Homo sapiens: one gene and its partner. The protein of the gene in region 1 purifies or fractionates together with the protein of each later gene. This does not show direct contact. Each region holds a gene or a part of one and is shown in the gene's direction. Other genes may lie near its edges.

The links. The genes of interacting proteins can lie anywhere in the genome.
Region 2: the proteins of NUDT12 (region 1) and SIRT2 purify together in Homo sapiens (affinity purification with mass spectrometry; 3 studies listed by BioGRID and IntAct, with this or other methods). This does not show direct contact.

What each region holds. Positions count from the first base shown.
Region 1 is NC_000005.10:103,548,199-103,550,574, reverse strand, and holds the end of NUDT12 (NAD-capped RNA hydrolase NUDT12), read left to right. Parts: 3' UTR 1-1,720; downstream 1,721-2,376. UniProt on the Homo sapiens protein: mRNA decapping enzyme that specifically removes the nicotinamide adenine dinucleotide (NAD) cap from a subset of mRNAs by hydrolyzing the diphosphate linkage to produce nicotinamide mononucleotide (NMN) and 5' monophosphate mRNA.
Region 2 is NC_000019.10:38,882,606-38,886,263, reverse strand, and holds part of SIRT2 (NAD-dependent protein deacetylase sirtuin-2), read left to right. Parts: intron 1-2,507; coding exon 2,508-2,637; intron 2,638-3,658. UniProt on the Homo sapiens protein: NAD-dependent protein deacetylase, which deacetylates internal lysines on histone and alpha-tubulin as well as many other proteins such as key transcription factors.

The sequences.
Region 1 (2,376 bases):
AATAAGAGACATCATGTTGGAAAGATGTTCTAGAAATGTGCATAAATTTCAGTGCCTCTTGTAAGCATTAAACTGATGATGAAGAAAGTTCCTGATTTGAGAAATGAATCAAAGTAATTTTAATGAATTTTTAGCTTGTATTAGCTTGAGTTAGCTGGCATTGATTTTTTAGTCCTTTTGTTACCTTTAAGTTGTCAATATATGGTTTTTGTTCATCTCCCCATTGTAGTCCCACTTGCTCTTTCCTGGGGGTTCCATTGTTCTAGCAGTGGAGGTGTTATAGTGTCGCCACTCGTCTAATTTGACCAGTGTTAAGAATTTTCTAATTTAATAATTTAATAGTGATCTCAATACCACACCCTCATGGAAGGAGAAAAGCATACTATTATATCTGGGACCTCTCTTTTAGACCTAAAATTAATTAACATATCTACTTATATGTTACTTATACCTAAAGCTGTTATTAAGACAAACCAAGATTCTCTGCTTTTGCACTGAAATTAAACTTGAAAGGAATTCTCCTCAAAGGTCGGATATTAAATAAGTCCCAGGCAGATTTACATATTTAATTTAAAACATTGGCTTTATTTCATTTTGTGATGAGTGATGTATCTGTGTTAACAAAAAATTGTATAATCATTACCAATACTATTTATTATGCTCAAATATATCTTGGCTTTGACCTTATTTCAACACATTCTAAGAAGCCTTGACAAAGTAAGTATATTTTAGAGCTGAATCAGTAAGATTCTAGAGAAAGCAAAACATAGTAGTTCACAATTTTGCAACATAGAAAGTCACATTTTGAAAGGCTATTTTGAAATTGATTTAATAGCTATTATAGTTTATGAATATCAAAATTTGTATAATTTGCATCTTTACTAATGTATGCTAGAGCTACAAGAGACCTTAAGGATAATATATGAAATTAGCTTTCCTTATTTTATAGATAAGGAAAAAGAAATTGTGAAAGGTGAATTTACCTAATTAGTGAAAGTTACATAACTAATTACAACAGTCTGTACTATATAATGCAGAGGACGATTCTCCCTGTAAAAGGAACTAGAAGCTATTACTAAAAATATATATAGACAAAATTAAAAGAAGGAATGATAAGAATAAATTTAATTTACCAAATATTGTTAATTAAAATTTTAGATACTTAACATTTATTTAACTTAAATAAAAGATAACTGTCAGATAAAACTTTATTTTACTAATGAGCAGTGATTTTCTTAGGAATTGATGAAGGCTTATTGGTATCAAGAATTTAAACCAAATTAAAACTGACAGAGGACATTTAGATACATAATAAAATTCGAGCTACATAAGTATATGGAAAATAATGTACCTTGATTATTATGAAATAGAGCATCTTGAAATTCAGTTTTACTCTAAATGTACTTTTAATACTTGCAGATTCTAAGATTACATTGTAAAATTCCAGGTTTTCATAATGTTAAAATAGGAAAGTAGAATATAAAGTATCAACAAGTGTAGTTATACATTTTGTTTTGGATATTTAATCCTTACTTGGGAAAAAATCAGCATCTAGGTAAATTATTATTTTAATAACAACTCTTAAATTGCCAACCTCTGAGAGGTGAAAAGCTATGTAAATAGAAGGAATGGCCAGTTCAAAAGAATAGTAGATGTGATAGTGCCGTGAATGTATTCTACTGGAAATGAATGTAATAATACATTAAATTTTTAAAATCTATTTTGTTTTGTGTGTGTGTTTAACATGTTTTGACAAGTGTCCTGAAAAATGAGAAAAGCTGGATTTCAGTCGTTAACCTGTTTCGAATTGATAATGTACAAGAAATGCAAAAGCCTTTTTAAAAGTGTCTGTGTTTGGGAGACTTAAAACTTTGATTTGAATCTTAAAGTATAGTTTGGGGTCAAATACAAACAGACTTACATATATACATACATATATAAAGTCAATAATTTTTGTTCTTCAGGTTTAAAGCGATATATCTAATTTTTATTACTTGTCTAATACTGCTAATTGTTGGATTTTGATATTTTCACATGTTGATGGAACATGAAGAGTTAGAAGCCCACATATTTTATTTAGTTGGAAAAATGAGAAATTCTTTTAAAGACCCAGTTAGGGATTTGGCTGAAGACAGAAAATAATAGGATAACAAAGGGAGAGACCAAGATGGAAGGAGGAAGAATAAGTTTGTTAATAAGCCAAATTAATCCCACATAACAACAATAGATAGCTGGTCCTGGAACTGTGTTGCTAATGTGGATACAACAAAATATTAGGTGAAGATGTTCTATAAAACAAATCCATTAATTATTTAGAGTAAAATTTTCACAGTGAAAATTTTATTAGGGCTGAGACCCAGTTATTAGGTTCTGGGG
Region 2 (3,658 bases), on another chromosome or scaffold:
AGGGCGTGTGGGAACAGTGACAGTGACTCTTGTCTGTAGGCTTTGGAGATAAGGTGGTTGCTGGTAGGGAGCCCAGAAGGCAGTTAGAGCATTCTTTCTGCCCTTGAAGGGAAACAAACCCTTCCCGTTGTTTCTGGAGTCCCTGGGAAACGCTGTCAGTTTGGCCCTGGGCCACACATGCGAGCCATCTCTGCGTAACCTCTGCCAGTGTCCTCTGTCAGCACCTGTTTTAGCGGCATTCCTCACAGGCAAACAACAGCTGCTCCAAAGGGGGTGGTTGTTTTAAGAAAAATGAGCGCGCACAAATGTCTGTGCAGAAAAGAACATTCCCACCTGTTTAATATGGAAAGTCTCACTGTCTTAAAAGAAAACAGTGGCCGGGCGCAGTGGCTCACACCTGTAATCCCAGCACTTTGGGAGGCTGAGGTGGGCAGATCACGAGGTCAGGAGATCGAGACCATCCTGACCAACATGGTGAAACCCCGTCTCTACTAAAAATACAAAAATTAGCTAGGCATGGTGGCGCGTGCCTGTGTTCCCAGCTACCTGGAAGGCTGAGGCAGGAGAATCACTTGAACCTGGGAGGCGGAGCTTGCAGTGAGCCAAGATTGCGCCACTGCACTCCAGCCTGGCAACAGAGCAAGACTCCGTCTCAAAAAAAAAAAAAAAAATAGCCACGCATGGTGGCGGGTGCCTGTAATCTCAGCTACTTGAGAGGCGGAGGCAGGGAGAATTGCTTGAACTCAGGAGGCAGTGGTTGCAGTGAGCCGAGATAGCGCCATTGTACTCCAGCCTGGGCAACAAGAGTGAAACTCCATCTGAAAAAAAAAAAAAAGAAAAGAAAAGAAAAGAAAACAGTGGCTGGGCATGGTGTCTCACGCCTGTAATCCCAACGCTTTGGGAGGCTGAAGTGGGAGGATCACTTGAGCCCAGGAGTTCAAGACCAGCCCGGGCAAATAGGGAGACCACCCCACCCCCCATCTCTACAAAAATAATTAAAAAGATAAAAAATTAGCCGGGCATGGTGGCATTTGCCTGTAGTCCCAGCTACTCAGTGGGCTGAGGTGGGAGGATGGCTTGAGCCCAGGAGGTGAAGGCTACAGTGAGCTGTGATCAGACCACTACACTCCAGCCTGAGTGACAGAGCAAGACCCTGCCTCCAAAAAAAGAAAAGAACACAGGTGAATATGCCATCTATGAAACAGGCCATAGTAAGAAAGGACCCTGGCTACTAAAGGGGAAGATAGTGATTAAAGCCAAGGAAGGGCCAGGCATGATGACTCACACTGTAATCCCAGCACATTGGGAGGCTGAGGCAGAAGGCTCGCTGACCAGCCTGGGCAACATAGTGAGACCCCATCTCTACAGAAAATTTTAAAAATCAGCCAGATGTGGAGGCTGAGGTGGGAGGATTGCTTGAGCCCAGGAGTTGGAGGCTGCAGTGAGCTATGATTGTACCACTGCACTATAGCCTGGGCGACAGAGTGAGACCTTGTCTCAAATACATAAAAAAACATGGCTAGGCACAGTGGCTCATGTCTATAATCCCAGCACTTTGGGAGGCCGAGGCAAGCAAATCACGAGGTCCAGAGTTCGAGACCAGCCTAGCCAACATGGTGAAACCCCATCTCTACTAAAAATACAAAAATTAGCCAGTCATGGTGGTGCGTGCCTGTAATCCCAGCTACTTGGGAGACTGAGGCAGGAAAATCTCTTGAACCTGGGAGTCAGAGGTTGCAGTGAGCCGAGATTGTGCCACTGCACTCCAGCCTGGGTGACAGAGCAAGACTCCATCTCAAAAAACAAACAAACAAACAAACAAACAAACCACACCTAGTAAGCCCTCCTGATTCATTTATGTTAATGCTTGCCTAGAGCTGCCACATGCAGCTGTGCAGGGTGCGCACTGCACAAGGATGCCACATCTGAGGGGGCTCCATTAATAACAGAGACATTGTAAATGTATGTTAATTTCAGCAATTAATGACAGGTGGAAATAAAGCATCTGGCTCTAATAAAACAACATTTTTTTTCTGAAAAATGAAAGCAAATGGCCTGAATTTGCAGAATAAAAGCCACACAGGCTGTGGAGTGGCTGTGGGCCTGGCCTCATAGATATTTAGGTTTGGGCCCCTTTTTTTTTTTTTTTTTTTTTAATTTTTTGTAGAGACAAGCGTCTTGATATGTTGCTCAGGCAGGTCTTGAACTCCTGGCCTCAAGTGATCCTCCCACCTCAGCCTCCCAAAGTGCTGGGATTATAGGCGTGAGCCGCCATGCCCAGCCTGGCCCCTGCCTTTAAGCAGCCTTGACTGTCACCCTTTAAGTGGCACCATTGGGATGAACAGAAGAGTCTTCAGATAAACCCTGCCACTTGCTTCTCCTCCCTCCCTTCTCCACCTGTCCCCACCACCTCACTGCTCCTCGTGGCCCTCAACTCCCTACTGTGCCTTCTGGCCTACAAGGGGTGGCTCACTCCTCACCCCTCTTCCCTCCATCTCTCCCTCTAGAACATAGATACCCTGGAGCGAATAGCCGGGCTGGAACAGGAGGACTTGGTGGAGGCGCACGGCACCTTCTACACATCACACTGCGTCAGCGCCAGCTGCCGGCACGAATACCCGCTAAGCTGGATGAAAGGTGAGGCTGGAGGGCATCCTGAGGGCAGGCCTCCTCTCAGCACCAGGAGCAGTGTCTCCATGCAGTGGGCACCCATTCTGTCCTGCTCAATTCTTTGGGGTTTTTTTGTTTTGTTTGTTTGTTTTTGAGACAGAGTCTCACTCTGTCGCCCACGCGGGGAGTTCAGTGGGTGATCATGGCTCACTGCAGCCCAACTGCCTGATTTCCTGTCTTTGGCTGTTTTTAATATATGATAGTAGGCCAGGAGCAGTGGCTCACACCTGTAATCCTAGCACTTTGGGAGGCCAAGGCGGGCAGATCACCTGAGGTCAGGAGTTCAAGACCAGCCTGGCTAACATGGTGAAACCCCGTTTCTACTAGAAATACAAAAAAAAAAAAATTAGCCTGGTGTGGTGGCATGCGCCTGTAATCCCAGCTACTCAGGAGGCTGAGGCAGGAGAATCGCTTGAACCTGGGAGGCGGAGGCTGCAGTGAGCTGAGTTCGCACCATTGCACTCCAGCTTGGGCAACAAGAGCAAAACTCTGTCTCAAAAAAAAAAAAAAAAAAAAAACAAGAAGTCACTTATTCCACTCATGGAAAGCCATTTCTGACATTCTTTATGCTGATTTAACAAAGCCTCTGGTGTCCCTGTGAGATAAGGACAGCTGCAGCATTTGCAGAAGGGCCTCTGGAGTGTGGCTGTTCTGATAAAATGCCAGCTGAGTGCCCCTGGGCTGAGGATTCCTGAATAGCCCAACTGCAAGCAGCTGGGGGCAGTGTACAATTCACATTACCCCCATTATGTGTCATTGACAGCAGCGTCACAGGCAGCACCCACGGTGTCATGCTGTCCATGCAGAAATATTTTAAAGAAAATTACCGACTACTGACATTGAAACAATGCTTTATAAATGTGTGCTGAATGAATGAATGGACAGTTGAGCAAATGACTTAGAATTCAGTGGGTTGCAAGTGACAGAAATGCTTTCTTTCTTTCTTTTTTTTTTTTTTGAGATGGAGTCTTGCTCTGTCACCCAGGCT